Linked DNA regions of Homo sapiens: region 2 is linked to region 1. Evidence: fine-mapped expression QTL. A gene starts in region 1. The other region holds a variant in brackets. All regions are shown on one strand. Distances are from middle to middle. Region 1 holds the start of ADM (adrenomedullin). Region 2 overlaps SBF2 (SET binding factor 2).

Region 1 (10,447 bases):
ATCCTGATAAGCTTCAGCACCTCAAAGAGAAGAGCCCGGGGTTTGATGGTGACCTTTGGTTAATCCTGAACTCATACCAAACTGGTCTTAGGAGGGTCTCTGTCTCCTCGCACATGTCTCCAGTCACAGGATTCTCAGCGGGAAGGACTCCAGCTGAGCAGCTGCCTCTTTTGTCTTAGGGCTGAACCATCTCCTTCACTTGCCTTGGATTCCCTCAAGTCATAAGACTTCCTCAGCACAAGGCTAGACGCCTGTTCCCTGCTCACAACCGCCCGAAGCTTGTGCCCAACCTGCCTTTGGCAGCTTTGTTTGCTGGCTGACGCTGTGCCAAGGTGAGGTTTGGCTGGAGTGCTTTGTGGCTACAGGACAACCTTGGCTCAAGGAAAGGAGTAATCTTGCGCCACTGTCTGCGAGGCTTAAGTGTTTGCTGCTCTCTGCAGTTTCTGTAGCCCCTTCAGACCACCCAGAACCCACTCACTGGCACAGAAATTCCATGACAGGAATCTTGAGTCACTCTTTCATTCATACATGCCTGGTACCTTCTCAGTGCCTGGCACAGAGTTCCCACAAAGTGAATCTTTTTCTGAAAGGCCCTTGAGGACAAGAATGGTCTGTAGCTGCATTTCTAACCTCCTCAATTCTGGCACACCTCACACAATTATTAAGATCAAACAGGACAATAAACTATATGAGATTGGCATTGTCAACAGCCAGGTGCCCAAACTGAGGTTTTGTATGGTCTTAAGGAAATTCTATGTACTCGAGTTTACTTTCTTCTAAATTGAAACTGCTTTGGAATGAGGTATCTCTGGACCCCAGAGTAGGGCCCCTCTCTCTCAGTGGGTATGCAGTCCTCTTCTGCAAGAAACTAAACATCCTAGCCCCTCGGAGGGGACCCTGTAATGTGCAAAAGCCCCAGAAGGCCGTAGGCTACCCTGGAAACATTTCCATTCTCCAAACTCACCTTCAGGTTTTCTTCACCAGGGAGGTTTCTGAGATCACCTACAAGCACTGACATTAAGGCCAGGGAAGCTTTTTGGAAGGGACAAGTAGCTGGTCTCCATCTTGGGTCTTCAGGATATTGGATGAGACAAACAGGGCACCCTGAAATCAAAATCAGGGGTCCCTCTCTTTACTCTTCCCTTATGTCCTAACTGTTCCTATGTCCCCTGCCTTTCTAGTCACTCAAGGGGGGCTTAGTGTCCGTCTATCGCCGGAACTGGGGTCAACCTTCTCAGAAGATAAGGCATATAAAGAAAGCAAGGAGGAAGGAAGGAGAGAGAGAGAGGAAGGCTGGAGAAAAGTGAAGAAAAAAATGAAAAAAGGCTTGGGAAGGAGGAAGGAAGAGGTGAGCGGCTAGGGGAGGCGGAACAATGAAGGTCTCAGGCCGTCGGAGGCTCACGGTTCCGCCGGCACGTCCGTCCTGCCCGCCTCCAGCCGGCAGCTGCACGCAGCGCAGCGTGTGGGCGCTGAGTCACTGTCCCAGAACAGGGAGCCGCGGTGCAGGTCTGGGGGGTGTAGGAGGACGGCCCTGGTTGGCATCTGCAAACTGTTTCTTTCTCTCTTTTTTTTTTTCTTTCTTTCCTCTTTCATTAAGGCTGTGTGCTGACTCCCACGTAGGAGAACTTATTAAACCGCACGTACTGCTTGGCGGCGCTGGGCCTGTCTCAGCTGCCTGCAGGGGGCGCTACAGCCTCGCCCATGAGCCAGCGGCCCGCGGGCGCTCAGGCCCGGGCAGACCCGGGGTTACTAGGGGTTACTGGGTTTTCCGGAGGTGTCCCCACGCATTGCTAGGGCGGCTTGGAACTTTAACAACCGCGGCAGGCAGGGGGAACGCCTCTCTTAGAAGGCCTCAGAGACCACCCCAACTCTTCGAAGCTCGCTTTCGCGCCGGGTTCTGTGAGCAACCCTATAAATCTAGGACTCCGTTGCGCAACCCGAGAGTCCAGGCTCGCCAACCCACTAGGGCTCCCCCTACCCACCCCCCGCCGGCCGCCACGCCAGGCGGTGACCTCGGGCGTCTCCGCGAAGCCCTGATTCGCACCCAGGACACGTGTTCTGCGCGCCCCACACAGAGAACAGAGCTCGTGACAGCTCAGCCCGCTCAGAGTAGGGCCAGCACCTGCACGCGCCGCTGTCCCACCTTCCCAAGCCCGGCGGCGGGACCCCAAGGCTCCTGGGCGGGCCGGGACCAGGGCACCCTCCCTTCCTAGACGTGAGAGCCGAGCCGAGAGAATGAATCAGCATTGAGACAGTTTATTGGTTTGCTGTTCGCATATCACCCATTTTATGTAAATAGATTATACAGAGACTCGGTGTTTCCTTCTTCCACACAGGAGGTAATCAGTCTTTCTCTTTCATGCACACAAACACACTCACATTCCACGCGGCGAACAACTTTACACCTCGCTGAGACATTCACGTCTTAAAATAGGGGAGGACAATATAATTGCTTTTAAAATGCCCTTAATACAATATATAACGTACAAAAATATCTCTATATTTGAAGTTACAAAAAAAATCTTGACAGCAACAAACTTAAATATTGATAGTTACCTCTGTATGTACAACACGCATTGCACTTTTCCTCTTTAGGTTTTGGAAAGTTCAAGTAATAGTGAGGCTTGCGCCCTGGTGGGGTGACACGCCGTGAGAAATCAGTTTGTGGGCGAGCACGGCTGTGGCTCAGACCCCTGCTCCGGGGGTCTCAGCATTCATTTCTCAGTTTCTCCTCTCCTTAAGCCTGGCAAACACTCGGATTCTTCTGCACCCCGCCCCCTGGGGCACTTGCACCTGAGCAAGGCTAAGGAAGCGAAGCCCCCAGAAGGAGGGGCCCTTGCAAAGCCAGAGCTCGCCGCCGGACGGTGCCTCCCGGACTCAGGGTCTCCGCAGGGCTGTCAGAGCCCGGTCCCCACACCGCTCGGGAAGTCCTTCGTCCCGGGAGGCACCAGCGGGATGCTTGCGCGACTATTCCTTGTACCATGGGCGCCTAAATCCTAAAGAAAGTGGGGAGCACTTCCACTCGGGGGGGCTGGAGCCCCGTGTGCTTGTGGCTTAGAAGACACCAGAGTCCGACCCGGGCCGGCCTCGGGCAGGGAGCGCCGGCGCCGGCGGCCGTAGCCCTGGGGGCTGATCTTGCTCCTGGGGGCGACGTTGTCCTTGTCCTTATCTGTGAACTGGTAGATCTGGTGTGCCAGCTTCTGCACCGTGCACGTCCCGAAGCGGCAGCCAAAGCTCCGGAGGCCCTGGAAGTTGTTCATGCTCTGGCGGTAGCGCTTGACTCGGATGCGGGCGGCATCCGGACTGCTGCGGGCGGGGGGAGGGGGAAGAAAGGCAACTTGAGACCCCATCAAGCAGAGCTTTGGCCCCAACACCGGGAACGGGAGCCATTCTAGAGCCAGAGGGAGCTGGAAACTGCTCGCGCCATCTGAGCTGCGGTCCAGCCCCGACGATCCCCCGGGCCAGGGGAGTGGAGACAGAGAACTCCTCCCGCACACCTTCCTTCCCTCCCGTCCCTGGACAGCACAGGGCGTAGTTACCTGTCTTCGGGGCTTCGAGAGGCACCCTTCATGTCCTGGGGCCGAATAAGGGTCTGGGCAGGCCCGGCCTTCACGTCAGCGAGCCCGGTGGGGTAGCTGCTGGACATCCGCAGTTCCCTCTTCCCACGACTCAGAGCCCACTTATTCCACCTGGAAAACACAAGCAGACCCGATTCGCGTGCGTTCAGGTGACGCCCAGGCCTGTCCCTGCTCCCATTCACTTCTAGACCTTCGGGACCAACGGTCAGTTCCCCTTGCCTGCCAGGTACCAGCAAGGGGGAAGGCGCTGCCCGGACTCACTTCTTTCGAAACTCCGACGCGACATCCAACCGAGCGGTGTCAGCGCCTAGGAAGGCGAGCGAACCCAGGTACATCAGGGCGACGGAAACCAGCTTCATCCCGGCTGCGAAGCGCAGACCCTGGAAAAGAAGAAAGAGAGTCGAGCGTGAGCACCCGGGCCAGCTGCACCGCCCGGGCGGGGCACGGAGGGCGGGCAGGGGCCCCGGCGAGGCGGGTTTAGCCCGCGCTTTCCCTGGCTCAGACGCTTATCTCCCTCCGCGCAGAGAGGCGCCAGAGGCGTTTGCACGCGCCGGCCGGGTGACAGGCCCCGCAGGGGAGGCCGCTGCACCCCGCCAGGCTCCCAGAGGGTCTCTGCTCAACTTCTTGGAACTTGGCTGACGGAGCAGAGGGGACTGGGTCTCTGGACCTCCAGCTGTGTGCACGAGCTGGGCCCAGGATATGGGGTGTATCTATCTCTCAGAGAACCCTCCAAAGTGGGTTGTTCCCCTCACCCAGCGCTCCCAGTTTAGGGCCTTGGCAAGCACTGCCCCCCACCCCACCTCTTAACCCGCAGGGTCTGCGGCACCTACCTGCTAAGAGAGTGATCTGCCAAGTACTTGAAGGAGAAAGTCTCAGACGTCCCACTGGCAATGGCAAAACTCCGAAGTCCAAGCCCAGCTGCAGTGAGAAGCCCGAAGTGGCAAGGCTTGAGCTGTTCTATCCAGTGTCACCAAGAAACCACTGAGTGGCCAGCTCTGGTTCCTGTGCTTTATAAGCGCACGGGTGGGGGAGCGGCGGGGCGGGGCCTGGGCTGCCCGGTTGCCTTCCCTTTCTTTCCTCAGCCACGCGCGCTCCTGCTCTCGGACGCGCGCATTGCTTCCTTTGGGGCTGGAGTTGGGATGGGGGGAGGGGGGAGCGGGGGAGAGGAGGTCCCTCGTGCCCAGAGGGCTTAGGTATGGGCTCCAGGCGGTTGGTGCAGGAACTGCCACAGCCCTCTTTGGGCACAGGGTTCAGACAGTACGCCGGAGCGAAGGGGCGCCACTACAACCTCTTGAGGTCCTTATCCAGGACCCATGCGGCCCGGAGTGCAAAGCCTCCTGGCGAAGAACAGCAAGAGCCCGCGGAAGGGACAGCGCGGATGGCCCGAGCCCTGGACCTGGGGAGCTGTGGCCTCAAGTGGACCGCGCCCCCCTGCCGGCTTGGCGCCTGACCGGGCCGCGACCCCAGACTCCCGCGGAGGGGCCGGGGCAGGGACGGAGCAAAGCCGAGAGGAGCAGGACTCACTAGTCCCCCAGAGGACCAAGACCCCGGCGTTTCGGGGTGAGCTAGTAAGATTTCACGGTAGGGACAAGGCTCAGAAAAGCTAAATTGAGAATTGGGATTTGGAGGGGGGAATTATCTGAAATTTCAGAATTTTCATTTCTATTTGGAAACATAGGAATAACCAAAATTAGGAGGAAATATACTGTTTCATTTTGCCTCCTTGTAATCCTATTATGCCTTATAAGGTCATAACCTGAGATTGTGCCTGGCTGCCTTCATTAATCCATCGTAAACGTGAGGACTGACTGCCAGGGAGCACACTAACGCTTCACGTATGCTAATCATTTTACAGTTTACCAAGCACGGCCACATCCCAGTCTACTTTGAGCTTCACAGCCACCCTTGAGTCAGGCAAGGAAGGTAACATTCCTTTTCCCATTTCAGCAGGTAGAAAATTCAAGCTCAGAGAGGGGAGGTATCTGCAGAGAGGGGAAGTCACCCTGCAGGTAGGAAGCAGCAGAGTCCCTACTCGGCCCGACACGCTAGCACGGCCGACTGGGGCGCGGCGTGGATTCCTCTAGGCTGGGGTCACCAACTTCTCAAGGGGCAAAGGAGAGTCCTAGCCCCCGCCCAAAGAATTTGTGCCTGTTCATGATGAATCACGCTAGACACGTTTGTCACCCGTTTGTGCTCTTTCATCACAGCTTCTTCTCTTTCTTACTTCTCTCCTGGGGGCCAAACTGGGAAGGAAAGGCTAAGCCACGGGGCTTCCTGCTTCGTGCTTGTGGGTTTCTGGGGTCCTACTAACCACTCCTCTAATCGAATGTCCTGAAGCCCAGCGACTCGACGGAGAGGCCAAAGGTGCGAGACCACTAGCCAAACAGGCTTCTAGTCCTCACCTCCCGGCAATTCGCTGTGTGAAGGTGGGCGAGTCATGTCCCATCTCTCGAGTCCCCATCTTAGAGCCGGTCCCCAGCAGACCTTTAAGCTTCCTTCCTACTCTGCCATATGGCTCTGAGCTCCGGTGCAAAGGCGGCTGGGCAGTGGGTCGCGCGGACCTTGCCCAGAGTGGTCTGTCTGGGCCGCGCACTGCTGGCTTAGCTGCCTTTTCACTCTCGGGACTCAACAGTGGACATTGCACCTGGGGAAGAAATGGCCGCGCGGAAGTTATTTAAGGACTCTTCCTGGAAGGAGTCACCTGAGCGGACCTGAATTCCATCTGAGGACGGAGGACAGATTCCGGGCCCTGACCCTGGCCCTGGTAAGGGGTTGGGACGCGGAGGGTTAGAGGAGTGCAGCGCGGCGCACTGGTCTGGATCCGGCCGCCCGGCTGGGCGCAGGGCAGTCACCGAAGTGGCCTGGCCGGGCGACTAGTCCGTCTGCACCGCAGACAGCAGCTATTACTGAACGCCTGCTCGGTGACCAGGAGCCTCCCCAGCCTAACTATTGTTCTTCTCCCTTGTCTCCCATTTCCTTTTCCTTTCACTTTATCCTCTGCGAGTCAAGCTCTTCGCGCAGATCCAGGACTGGCTATCAGTCGCTCTGAGGATGCGACCTACTTGTCGCCAGCTTCCACTTGGTTCCGCGCCAGGACAGGTTTTACTTTCATTTCTCCCGCGCGCGCCTCCGACTGCTGGGGAGGTCAAGGACAGCTAGGCGTCGGCCCACGGCCAGGGAAGGTCCCGTGGTCTGGACTCGTTCCTTCCAGTCTCCACCAGTCCTGGGGGGTGGGGCGCGGCGGGGGTGTTCGTTCTCCAGAGAACTCTGCGACTGTACCTCGCTGCCACCTCGCTGCCTCCTCGCTGCCCTTTACAAAAGCTCGTGATTCCGTGGGGGAAACTTGAGCTGTGGCTCTGCCAGGAGGATCGCGAAGCAAGTGCCCTTGGTTCAAACTCCTCTTTGAGCTGCAGGCAGCTTCAAAAAGGAAAGCAAGCCCAGGAGTGTAGGGAGACTCAGAGGCTAGGCTCTGCCAGCCTCGGGTGCCTATGCCAGCAACCTCTTGGCTGTGACAAGAATTCCCACCTGAGAGTCTTGGCATGCACTTTATCAGCCTGGTGCACTTTGCCGCTCTGGCACTTAGAGATCTGTCACTTGAGAACCAAGTCAATTCTTTAAGTAAAATCTTGGATTGGCAGCTCAAAGTATTTTCCTAGAAAGCCCCTATCTTGGAGTGAGTGAGTGTGTGCGCGAGCGCGCACCCCGCTTGCATGGGTGAGTAGCAGGGGCTAGAGTGCTCCCCAAAGCTTCGTGGGTTTAAGTCGAAAAAAGATAAGGAGTTTGTTAAATCTGGGCATCTATGTTTTTTCTCGTGAAATCTCGAGTTTGTTTAATTAATCATCGTTAACGACAAAAAAAAATCACTAGAATGCATTTCTGGTTCAGTGGTTCTATGGAGAAGGAAATGCTGCAGTGGGAGTTCTGATCCTGGCAATTTATTAACATAAGTTGCATCCATTCAAGTGGCAGTGATTGTAGATTCACGTTGAGCAAGGACAGTACAAGGAAGGAAGGAAGTGAAGGAAGAAACATCTTTAAATTTCTGGCAAGAAAAGAGAAAAGAAAAAGAAAAAAAAATCCTTGTTAATGAAGATCTACTTTTTTTGTGTGCTCCAGAATTTCAAAAGGTCAGATTACAAATAAACCTCCAAACCACTGTAATAAATGTGTACATCCTGACATTAGGGAGACACACATACACATATGCTAAAGGGTTTTTGCGTAATGGTGTTTCAACTTCTTCACATTCCAATTGAATGATTTTTAGGCCCTATATCCAAGCCTGATTCTTAGTAAAGTTTGGAGTTTAAAAAAATATGTGGTAGTGGTTTCTCAGCTAGCACTGTGGACACAGTTCTTAAAGCCAGAGTGGCCATACTCAGGTCTTTCAGAGAAGCATTGAAAAATAATAAATATCAATGATATTAATAAGAATAACTAAAATGTGAGTAGCTAAGTGCATTGCATAATTATCTCAGATGCCTCCTTTATCAAACAGGAAATTTTATGATGCATTTATTATTAATATAGTTCAAAATGTCTTTTAAGCTGAGGACTTGTTTACAAAGTTCACTTGAAAACAAAGTTCAAGATGCATCCTGAAGTCATAACACAAAGTGATTTAGAGAAAGAACACAATCAGCCTTGTGGATTTGATCACTTACAAGGAGAAGTAAAGCAGGATACAAAGCCCAGGGCACTTTTTTGGGATCTCTGACTTCTCTAAGGACCTAATAAAAATATAGATCCTTTCCAGAAAAATGAACATGTACATAAACCGATTAAAGTATAAAATAGGCATACAGTTCCGGGAGGTTGACCAAGTTTAAAACCCTGACACAGAATAAAAAACACTGTTTCCATATTTTAAATTTCTGTCTGGTTTATAGTGGTAAGGGCAAGGAGGACAGTTAACCTCCCTCTTTAGGGCATAATATTTTCCAGAGCATCAGCATAAAGAAAAGTAATGCGTTTGCTGCCTCATTTTTGTGCTCCTGTACAAAACAGGCAGAGAGTAACAGTCAGTTCTTGTACATGGTAAAGCCAGAAGGCAAACCTCCCTGAAGCTTAAATAAGGTAAATTACTGCAGAACAAATGAAAGAGAAGAGATGGTCCAGTACAGTGGCTCGTGCCTGTAATCCTAGCACTTTGGGAGGCTGAGGCAAGTGGATCTCTTGAGCTCAGGAGTTCAAGACCAGCCTGGCAACATGGCAAAAATCCATCCCTACAAAGAAAAAAAAAAAAAAAGAGAGAGAGAGAAGAGAAAGTAGTAAACCTAAAGAAGCTTGTTACAATAATACCTGTAACAGGACAAAATGAAATTACTTCAAGAGAAATTTGCTACAGAGGGCACAATAAATGGCATTAATGAATGGATGATAAAAGAGATGATTAGGCCATTTGAATCATCCATAGCCAAAGAGAATGGTGTTAATGAAAGCAACCATCATGCTACTTGTCTCCAGATAGGGATCCTGTGATATCAGATTAGAAGCACCTGGAAAGAAGCAATTATTTTATATATGTATATATATTTATATATATTTTTTTCTTTTTATAGAGATGTGGTTTCATCATGTTGCCCACGCTGGTCTTGAACTCCTGATCTCAAGAGATCCACTCGCCTTGGCCTACCAAAGTGCTAGGATTACAGGTATGAGCCACTGTGCTCAGCCAAGAAGCAATTCTGATTTATAAGCCTGAATGAATTGATAGTTTTTTCATTCTTTCAACAAATATTTACTGATTATATATTATATACCCAGCACTGTGCTAAGTTCTCAACATACAGTAATCACCAATGCAGTCATCAACAAACTTACCCTCAACGAGCTTACAGCCTAGTGACGTAGCCAGATATAAACAAATCCTTATCAGAATTATGTATTTACATGATTATAAACTGTGTTAAGTATTCTGAAGAAAAAGCAAGACTAGGGGGATCTAATATTCGAAATGGAGGAAACAGCATGTGCAAACACTCAGAGATGGGAAAGAACTTGGTACATTAGAAAAAATGAAAGGAGTCCTGTTTGATAGGAATGCATAGAATGATAGAGAAAAGAGGCCTGAAATGAGATTAAAGAGGTCATCAGGGTCAGAGTAAATAGGACCCTTTCCGACATGAAGATTTTGCACTTTATTTATGGTGACATGGAAAACTATTGACAGGTTTGAAGACAGGAGAGACATGATCTGATATACATTTATTTAAACAATCGTTTTGGCTATGGAATGTGGTAGATAGATTAGAAAGGTGCAAGAAAGGAAGCAGCACGGTGGTGGTACTCTGGAGAGACTGCAGAGAGTCTAGTCCCCCCATAACATTTATTATACCCCCTCCCCACATACACATACTCATTCCATCCTAAAGTTCACCAGCTTCACTGACATACACTCTGTTCAGTAGCACACGGCCTGCTCTCAGAAGAGCCCACACTTGGTGGAATGCTCTGCTGAAGCTGTTTTGAAATTCTCCAACATTTCTGAACAGGCAGTCCTACATTTTCATTTTGCACTGGACTCCACATATTATGTAGCCAGTCCTGCTCATCAAACATGTGATCTAAGTAAAAGTAGCTTGTAAACTCTTACAGTACCTATATATACTGTAGCTGCTAATGTCAGGGGTACTTCAAATGAATGTTAAGATTCAACCATTCATCTCATCACACATGGACCGCAACTGCAGGACACTTCCTTTTTTTTTTTTTTTTTTTTTGAGATGGACTCTTGCTCTGTTGCCCAGGCTGGAGTGCAGTGGTGCCATCTCGACCCACTGCAAGCTCTGCCTCCTGGGTTCACGCCATTCTTTTGCCTCAGCCTCCTGAGTAGCTGGGACTACAGGTGCCCGCCACCACTCCTGGCT
Region 2 (10,447 bases), 37 kb after region 1:
CTAAAGAATCAAGATTGCTGCAGCCCCTAGGAGCCCAGCGCCGCCGCCATGTCCTCCGGGGCTAGCGCGAGCGCCCTGCAGCTCTTGGTAGAGCAGCTCAAGTTGGAGGCTGGCGTGGAGAGGATCAAGGTCTCTCAGGCAGCTGCAGAGCTTCAACAGTACTGTATGCAGAATGCCTGCAAGGATGCCCTGCTGGTGGGTGTTCCAGCTGGAAGTAACCCCTTCCGGGAGCCTAGATCCTGTGCTTTACTCTGAAGACTCGAGAGAAGTTTGCTGAGGAATGCCTTCAAGCACAAAGTGATGAATGACTGCCTTCAAGTCTCAAGAAAACACTTTTACCTAACTTTTAGAGATATTTCAGCCCTTTCCTGTGGCCTGGTCCTATAGCCAAAATCACAGATATTCATGAGTTTCTACTTGAGTGAGAAAACTGGGTGAAGGAATAGAATTTTAAATAGTAATAACTGCTTGTTTTTTTGTGCAAGTACTTTTATACATAAGATAAACAAAAACCTTACCACCAAACATACCAAAATGCACCTCTTTCATAAGTGAGTTACTAAGATTTCTATACCTGGAATATCATGTATGTTTCATTTACTGGATGTTTACATTTTAGGAAGGAAAATAGTTTTGTTTATTTAAACAACTGAATACTTATAAACTGTTGTTCCTGGAAGTTATTTATTCCATAAAAAATTTGTTCTTTTCTCATGAATTTATAATTCCTAAATGAAGACCAGAAAGTACAAATTGCTGGGAGGAAGAATAGGCTTTATTAATCAACTGATGTCTTGATTTTTCTAAATGGGAAGATTGCTTTATTTTTAACACTAATTATGGGAGCAGATTCTTAGCAAACTTCTTTGGAAAAGTTAATGTTATGATGTGCATTAGGCTGCCCCATCGTGTATATAAATGAAGCAGATTTGATTTTTGTATTCTTACGTTTCTCTGCTTTGTAGTTGTGGCTGTACTTAAAGAAATACAGAATTTCATATATTTAAAAATGTTTAAAATGTGACCCACAGAACATTGTAAATGATTAAAAACTAACATGAAAATATTACAACCTAAAAGAATTCTTAACTTCAAAAAAAAAAAAAAAAAAGAATCAAGATTGCTGTCCTTGGTTTTGCAATTGCTACTCCCTTGTTATTCTGTCTTTTTGATCATAACCACTCCAGTGGGTAAGAAGTGGCATACTGCTGACATTTTAACATATGTATTTCCAGAGATTTTTGTGTGCATCCATATACGTATATATGTATAATTAATTTTACTACTTTTTTTTTTTTTTTTTTTTTTTTTTTGAGACAGAGTCTTGCTCTGTCGCCCAGGCTGGAGTGCAGTGGCACAATCTTGGCTCACTGCAAGGTCCGCCTCCCGGGTTCACGCCATTCTCCTGCCTCAGCCTCCCCAGTAGCTGGGACTACAGGCCCCCGCCACCAGGCTTGGCTAACTTTTTTCCGTTTTTTAGTAGAGACGGGGTTTCAGCGTGTTAGCCACAATGGTCTCAATCTCCTGATCTTGTGATCCGCCTACCTCGGCCTCCCAAAGTGCTGGGATTACAGGCGTGAGCCACCGCGCCCGTCCTCATTTTACTTCTTAAAAACATGTTTATAGCATCTATCCATTTATATAAGCTGTGTTTTTAAAACTTATCTGCATGTTATTGGAAGCTTTCCATGTTCTATATACAGTTGACTCTTCAACAACATGGATTTGAACTGCGTTGGTCCACTTATACACATTTTTTTCTGCCTCTGCTACCCTTGAGACAGCAAGAATAACCCTTCCTCTTCCTCCTCCTCAGCCTACTCAACATGAGGACAATAAGGATGAAGACCTTTGTGATGATCTGCTTCCACTTAATAGTAACTGTGTTTTCTTATGATTTTATTAATAACATTTTCTTTTCTCTAGTCTGCTTTATTGTAGAATACATTATATAATACATATAAACATTAACAATATGTATTAATCTACCATTTATGTTATCTGTAAGGCTTCTGGTCAAGAGTAGGCTATTAGTAGTAAAGTTTTTTGGGGAGTCATAAGTTATATGTAGATTTTTGACTGCACAGGGGTTGGTGCATCTAACCCTTGAGTTATTCCAGGGACAACTTTGTATATATAAAACATAACATCAATTTTTATTAACTACAAAATGTTTTTATCATTTTAATATATAATTTAAAGTAAATAAATTTATCAGTTAATCTCATGGTTAGATAATTTTGTTATTTCCAAATTTTTGCTGTTATAAATAGTGCTGTGATGAATTGTTCTAGCCAGATTTTTGCATTGATTTTTAATTTCTCAGGATCAAATAGAGAGGCAGTAAATTTTAGTAGTAGAAAAGTTAGAAGTGTGGGATGAGCTAGATGTGGTGGCTCACTCCTGTAATCCCAGCAAGTTGGGAGGCTGAGGTGGGAGGATCATTTCAAACCAGGAATTTGAGGTTCCAGTGAGCTATGATTGCACTACTGTACTCTAGCCTAGGTGACAGAGTGGGACCCCATTTCTACAAAAATAGATAAAGTGTGGGATGGAGCCACATAGTCTGAGCTTGATTCTTGGTTTTGCCTCCTAGTAGTTCTGGCTTTAGACAAGTTACTTAATTTTTCTGTCTCAGTTTCTGCATTCATAAAATTGGATAATAGTAAATAGTAGTATCTACCTCATAGAGATGTTGTGAAGATTAAATGAGTTATTTCATGTAAAGTAAAACAGTGTCTGGTACACAATAATAGTGCCACATTTTCATCATAGAAATGGAACTGCCGGGTCAAGGATATGTATGTTTATATGGACATATGTGAATTTTCTTCCTGGCATCCCTTCCTTTGGGAACCATGCCTTCTTTTCTCTACGGTTCCAGGGAAAGTTTCAGTCCTAGTTACCCTACCCTCTACTTTAAGCTGGACCGGTTAGAGCTTGGGTGTTTTCTTTTGGAACAAACTGGCACGCCTATCTTTTCCCACTAGGATGACTAAGGTAAGATACTGTGATTAAGTTGAGGCTGCCAGTGTGTGTTTTCCTTACTGTGTTTAGAGAGTCTCTGAGTATTGAACACAAGCTGAGGCAAGGATAGTCAAAAAATGAAAAGACAGACATAGCTCTGGAAACATTATCTAAACTTCTGGTTCCAGCTGTTTCTGAAAGCCAAAAGAACATTTTGAATAGTTTTGAGGTATATTGCTAAAATGCCTTGCAGAAAGATGTGTCAGTTTATACTCTCAGTAGTAGTATGGGAGTATACCTACTTCCTTCAGGGAGATTTTAATTAGGAAAAAAAAATCACTTAATGAGGTATTGCTTAAGAAACAACAGAGGAAACTGCATAGCTTCATGAAGACGAAGATGCTAAGGGGCTGGTTCAGAGAGATCAGACCTTCAGATTACATCTCTGAAACATTTTGCTGCTTGTCTTTGGTCTTTACTGTGTCCTAGAAATGTTTGAAACAAGGAATTGGAGTTCTGAAAATTTCAAGGTCTTTCCGTTTACATTTGTCTAATTTTTTTAGACTGAAAAAGAGTTCCTTGAGAGCATGGCCCAAATATATCACAGTATGCTATCCGTAGAGAAACTTTTGAAACTGGAAAAAATGTCCTTTCAACAGAGAGACTACTACTTTTTTAGCAGAATGCTTTACACACTGGGAAGTAAACAATTATTTACTGATTGTTTATTGAGTAGACAGTTGAAGGGCTTTTGGTGATTTTCCTAACAGACTGAGTTAGGAGAAAGAATTTGTGTTGTTTCTGGAAAGGGCTATTTTCCACTGATGACACCATTCTATAAATGTCATCTTTTTCGTTGATCCATTGTAGCTTTTTGTGTACTGTATTAATAATTTACAAGGTTCACTAATACCATGATTTGAAGAAAACAAATTGTTTGGGAACTTGACATCTCTCTATTTTTTTTCTTCAAGCAAACATTCTGTCCTTATAGTAATTTAAAATATAGGTTTAAGAACTTAAAATGGAAGATTCTTGTTTAAAGAAAATAAGTGGTTTTGTGGCAAGTTTTTAAGTGGAAAAAAAAATCTGTATAGTTAATGACATCTGCTTGTAGGTAAAACTATGTCCTTTGTTTTTCCTAGCTTAAGTTAATTCTAGTAACATTTACAGAGAGAAATCAAGTGTCAGAACAAACTTGGACAATAATAGTATGAAAATTAATTCACAGTGGAAAGTAGCAGTTGGGACTGGAGTGAATTTTATAAATGCTTCATATACTTGTCCTACGCGGTCTTCTAGGGAATTTGAAAAGAATGTTACTTGTTTTTCTTTGGAGACAGATGTTTTACCAAATCTTAGCGTGAGTAAACCCAAATCCACATGAGATTGGAGTTAATAAAAGTCATTTTTTTAACAGGAGGAAAGAAATGAGAGGAACAACAGAATAAATATTCATTTAAGATAGTGAAACACTGAAGATTTTTGAAAATGTAAATTACTATATTACTAAAAAACCATATTACTCCCTTCTCCCTCACCCCCACCTTAAACTCCCTTTCACTGCTACTGTTCAGATTGTGTGTTTGAGGAATTTGGTTGTAGAAGAATAAAGTCTGGGTGTAGACAGTTTCGGGTTTGTATAGCCATCTGGACCAGGCTGCTTCTAGCTTTGTACTTAGCCACTCAGCTCCATCCCATCTATATTCCAAGTAGGAGTAAGACCCTGTCTCAAAAAAAAAGAAAGAAAAGAAAATGCAGCATGTTCAAGCATATCTGGCTCATTCAAACCTCTTCCCCTTGGCCATTCGCTCAAGTCAGAAACTTGCCACACTCCTTTCTCTCTCACCTTCACTT[C/T]AAAGTGTTGTTTTTTTTTCCCTCAAAATTTTCTCACATCTTTTTTTTCCTCTGTTTTCACAGTCACTGCCATAGTTTAGGCCCTTATCAGTTCTTACTCGGATTACTATAAAGTGCACTCTGTTAGGATAGAGGTTTGGCTTCCAGTAATAGGGACTTAAGTGTCTCAAACAATATAGAAACTTATTTCTTTAAAAGTTAAAGTCTGGGTGTAGACAGTTTCGGGTTTGTATAGCCATCTGGACCAGGCTGCTTCTAGCTTTGTACTTAGCATCTCAGCTCCATCCCATCTATATTCCAAGTAGGAGGATGGAGGAAGTAGGGAAGAAGAGATAGCCCCCTTCCCTTTTTAATTTAATTTAATGTAATTTAATTTAATTTAATTTATTTTTGAGATGGAGTCTCACTGTCACCCAGGCTGGAGTGCAGTGGCACGATCTCGGCCCATTGCAACTTCATCCTCCCAGGTTCAAGCGATTCTCCTGCCTCAGCCTTCTAAGTAGCTGGGATTAAAGGCATGTGCCACTACACTTGGCTAATTTTTGTATTATATTTTCGGTAGAGACGGGGTTTTACTGTGGTGGCCAGGCTGGTCTCGAACTCCTGACCTCAAACCATCTGCCAGCCTCGGCTTCCCAAAGTGTTGGGATTACAGGCGTGAGCAACCACGCCCGGACCCTCTTCCGTTTAAAGGCCAAAATCAACTACGTTTCCTTTGGCCAAAACTTATCCTGGGAAATGTGGTCCATATCCCTCATGTTAAAATTGGAGCTTCTGTTATCACCATCATCATCACTGTCATCATCATCATAGCTGTTAGGAAATAACTAATCAAGTGTAGACATCTCTTTATTTCCTTGCTTTCAGTTAAATTCTTCTCTAGCTAGTTCCATATTGCCACCAGAGTAATTTTTTTTTAAAAGGAATGTTTATGTCACTTTGTATTTAATCTTTGAGTAGTTTGCTACTAGCTTCAACTTCATACTCAGAATGTCTCACGGTATCTAAACAGTGTCAGTAGCAGAGGAAATCTGCATTTACCCGTATCTAGCCTGGGTCCTGTTGTCCTGCATGCAGGGATATCCCCTCCCCATAGTGATCAGTGTCTCCTAGTCCTTTACAGTCTCAGTGCTCTGTCCTTGGCCGAGAGGTCTTTAATTGCACAAATAGTGTCCTCTCCTCTGTAATTCTGCAGTGAGGGTCTGTATGAGGTAGCATGGCGATTGACTGGTCACAAGTAGCATTAAGTTCTAGCGTCAAACAACCTGAGTTTGTGCTTAGCCACCTATTGGAATGTGGCTGTGGACAAATCATTTAACTACAGAGCTGAGTTTATCCTCTGTAAATCTGGGATAAAAGTATGAGTAGTAGCTGCCTCATGTGATTGTTATGAGGATTAAATGAACTGATAAGCAAGGTCTTCTGCCTAGCCGAAAAAGTACTAAAAAAAATGGCAGGTTGGGCTGCCAGGCATGATGGCTCATGCCTGTAATCCCAGCACTTTGGGAGACCAAGGTGAGAGGATCACTTGAGGCTAGAAGTTCAAAACCAGCCTGGGCAACAAAATGAGACCCCCATCTCTAAAACACACACACACATGCGCGCGCGCACACACACACACACACAATTAGCCTGGCCTGGTGGTGTGCACCTGTGATCCCATCTACTTGAGAGGCTGAGGCAGGAGGGAGGAGTGCTTGAGCCTGGGAGGTTGAGGCTGTGGTGAGCCATGATTGCACCACTTGTACTCCAACCTGGGTAACAGAGCGAGACCCTGTCTCAAAAAGAAGGCAGCTATTATTATTTACATAGGTGCATATATGTTCTTCACATAAGTCCATAATATTTAGGCGTGTTTCACAGAATTTAAGCTGCATGTGGTTTTCATTGAGTTCTCTAGATTTTTTATATTGACTGTATGTTTGTATATTCATTGACATATTTTAAAAAGATACCCTGTGTTGATACCCCCCCACCTCTCCCCCCCCCCGATTTCTGCACTTGACTGTGAGCTTTTAAAGATAGAAACTGTTAAATTTACAAGAAAAAAACAACCCCATCAAAAAGTGGGCAAAGGATATGAACAGACACTTCTCAAAAGAAGACATTTATGCAGCCAACATGCATATGAAAAAAATGCTCATCATCACTGGTCATTAGAGAAATGCAAATCAAAACCACAGTGAAATAACCATCTCACACCAGTTAGAATGGCAGTCATTAAAAAGTCAAGAAACAACAGAATGCTGGAGAGGATGCGGAGAAATAGGAATGCTTTTACATTGTTGGTGGGAGGGTGAATTAGTTCAACCATTGTGGAAGACAGAGTGGCAATTCCTCAAGGATCTAGAACTAGAAATACCATTTGACCTAGCAATCCTGTTACTGAGTATGTACCCAAAGGATTATAAATCATTCTGCTGTAAAGACACATGCACACGTATGTTTACTGCGACACTACTCACAATAGCAAAGAATTGGAACCCACCCAGATGTCCATCAATAATAGACTGGATAAAGAAAATGTGGCACATAGACACCATGGAATACTATGCAGCCTTAAAAAAGGTTGGGTTCATGTCCTTTGCAGGGACATGGATGAAGCTGGAAACCATTCTCAGCAAACTATCCTAAGAACAGAAAACCAAACACCACATGTTCTCACTCATAAGTGGAAGTTGAACAATGAGAACACATGGACATAGGGAGGGGAGCATCACACACCAGGGCCTGTCGGGGGGTGGGGGGCTAGGGGAGGGATAGTATTAGGAGAAATACCTAATGTAGGTGACGAGTTGATAGGTGCAGCAAACCATCGTAGCATGTATATAACTATGTAACAAAACTGCACGTTCTGCACATGTACCTCAGAACTTAAAGTATAATAAAAATTTTAAAAATTAACAAAAATAAAAAAATAAATAAAGTAGGAACTGTTTTCTGCTCATTTTTTTTGTAGTACCTGGCAAAATACCTGGCACATGGAAGACCCTTGGTAAATACATATTGAATTAATATTGAATGAGCAATTATACTAAGATGGGATGGCAGCCTAGATGCTATCCTTCTGCTCCCATTTTCTTTTCAAGCATGCATCTCCCTATATAATCTTCCCTAAAAGAATTTTTAGTATACATAGGTGAGATCTTTATTATAACTCTGTCAGTTATTCTCAACATTTTTTCTAATGAGAAGCTGAGCTTTATTTCCCTGAAGTATTGTGAGTATTTGGATTAGAGAAGAAGGTGACCAAGTATCACTGTACCAGTTACTGATAGGAGTGGGAGGAAGATTATGGTTGCTGAGCATTCCTTCCCCATTATAAGGAATACTCAAGAGCTATAAAGAGGGCAGTTTGGCAGTAAAACCATCTTGGAATTTGATGATGTAAAGCTTGAAGATCTCCAAGCTGCCTGCTGTTGACAAATATTCCTTAGTAAGCTTTACCTAAGGCAGAAGCACATTCACATAAGCACCTTGGATTATCTTGTAGTTCTTATTTTTTAATATTAACTTTATAAATCATGAATATTTTTGTAGTTATCAGGTTATTGTTAAGACCTGTTTGGATAATTTTCCTCAGATAATGCTTGAATGATGGGATTTTTGGATATTGTTGTTTTTTCGTTTTTAAGTGGATAATTTGGACTGTTCAAGTGTTTCCTCACCTTTTCCGTAAGGATGTTCAAATGTGTTTAATATATTCCAGAGAGTTTAATTTCAGCCAGGATAAAGTTTTCATTTGATATGGTATATTCTTCTATGTCATTTTTCCGGGTGAATGGAGTTGAGTATTCTCTAATGTAGCCAAAGGCTTCTATTCTTAAGTACAGCAGAGATTTTATACAAACCCTTCACTTTATAAATAAGGAACCTAATGTTTAATTAGGTACTTATTAGTAGTAAGAGTCTCTGACTTATTTAAAGGTCAGAGTTTATTCTAGTAGAAGTTACTGCATGTCTCTTGATACTAGTAATTAACCTATTGTAGCTTGAATTAACCATAGTTATCATTAAGGTTTTAAGAAGACTGTAATTCATTCTCTTGATCATTCATACATGGAAGTCAGGGCAACCCCTCTAAACAGAAAGTAAAGTGTGGTTTCTTCCAGCATTATGTCATTATAATTCACACAAATTAAAAAAAAACTTGAATTTTTACTATATCTGATACTTCCAGCTTCATAATTTTTCTTTGGGGGATAAAAATGTGTAATTATTATTAAAACCATATAAAATATGAATAATGTGCTTATTTTCTTTTGTCTGAAATGTTGATTTATTGTGCTGATTTTTTTTATTTAAAAGGATAACAGAAGATTCTTGAATGATTTATCAATTGGCCTTCAATAGGTATAGAAAGAAGGTATCTATAAGGAGGAGATTTTAAGATTCTAAATGTATATTGTATATAATTTTTTAAAACAGGGAAGTAGTACAATTTCTTTAGGATTAAATGTTGTATTGAACACTGATAAAATATTTATTAATTTTAAAGAATGTCATTACTTGTTAATGCAAGTTTTTTTTTCGTCTTATATGGTAGTAAAATTATAGACTCCCTGAGGATCCTTTTATCCTCAGGTAAAGAATCTGAGACCTCTGGTGTCATAGCTCTTTGCAGAACATTTAGAGAAAGCATCAACCAATTATTTTTGCATAGATGAACTATTAAGTTGAATTCAGCAGGTATAGGATATTTCATTAATCAAGGACTCAAAAAAATCAAGGATACTTGGTTAAAAGTTTTTAGCTTTCAATGTGTGTGTGTAGTGTATGCATATACATCTATGTATTTACATTTTAGTTGACTGACAGTTGTCTTTTGGAAGTTACGGTTTATAAAATAAAATAATTTATACATACATAGAAAGCATAATAAACAGATCACTAAACTCTTTTCTACCCTCGCATCAGAGAGCAGCCCCTAAGAGGCTTATAGTCTATTTTATAAGGATGAGATGTCTGTGGAAAGATAATTATCATATTGCCAGGTGAGTGCTCTAGACAGTAAGACTAGGTTCAGAAGGCTGAGGGTGACAGGAAAGGGCTCATGGAAGTAGTTTATTTTGAGTTGCACTTTGAAGGATTGGATGAGGCTTTTTTTCCTCTACAACATTTGATTATGAAAAATTTCAAATACAACGAAGTTGAAAGAATTTATACCAAACGCCTGTATAGTACTACCTACACTTTGTACAATTAACATTTTATTATACCTGTTTTATCATATATTACTCCATCTGTTGATTCCTATATCATCCACTAATCTATCTTTTTTTGGATGTATTTCACAGTAAATTATTGATACCAGTATCTTCCCCCAAACTAGTTTGGCATGCATATAATTAACCATAATGCAATTTTGGGGACTTTTTTTTTCTTTTGATGCAATGTTCACATATAATGAAATAAATCTTAAATTTACATTCCTGGAATTTTACACATCTTTGTAATTTAAACATGTATTAAGATACAGTATATTATGCCCCTTCTGAGTCACTTCCTGCCCTGTCCTCCCAGAGGCAGTCACTGTTCTGATTTTTTTGTCTGCCATAGATTAATTTTTCCTATTCTAGAACATCATAGAAATGGAATCATATAGCACATATTTCTTTATGTA

What was found.
Region 2: its variant is fine-mapped to the expression of ADM in whole blood (INTERVAL, PIP 0.94).

Annotation. Positions count from the first base shown.
Region 1 is chr11:10,299,191-10,309,637 of GRCh38, reverse strand. It overlaps ADM (adrenomedullin), which reads right to left and starts at 4,565. Exons shown (of 4, transcript NM_001124.3): 1 at 4,409-4,565; 2 at 3,840-3,958; 3 at 3,540-3,689; 4 at 2,241-3,306. The coding sequence starts at 3,937. The coding sequence ends at 2,997. It overlaps CAND1.11 (a long non-coding RNA gene), which reads right to left and starts at 1,325. Exons shown (of 4, transcript NR_103765.1): 1 at 965-1,325. It also overlaps a transcript of SBF2 not described here. RefSeq lists enhancers at 1,455-1,724, 6,578-6,757, 6,778-6,857 and silencers at 2,225-2,324, 2,662-2,956, 3,974-4,023, 4,044-4,093, 4,774-4,823 and 2 more.
Region 2 is chr11:10,261,861-10,272,307 of GRCh38, reverse strand. All of the region lies in intron 1 of SBF2 (SET binding factor 2), which reads left to right. It also overlaps the pseudogene LOC653503. Among named protein-coding and RNA genes, the nearest start is that of SBF2, 27 kb to the left of the region's middle. The variant C/T (reference allele first, on the strand shown) is at 4,825.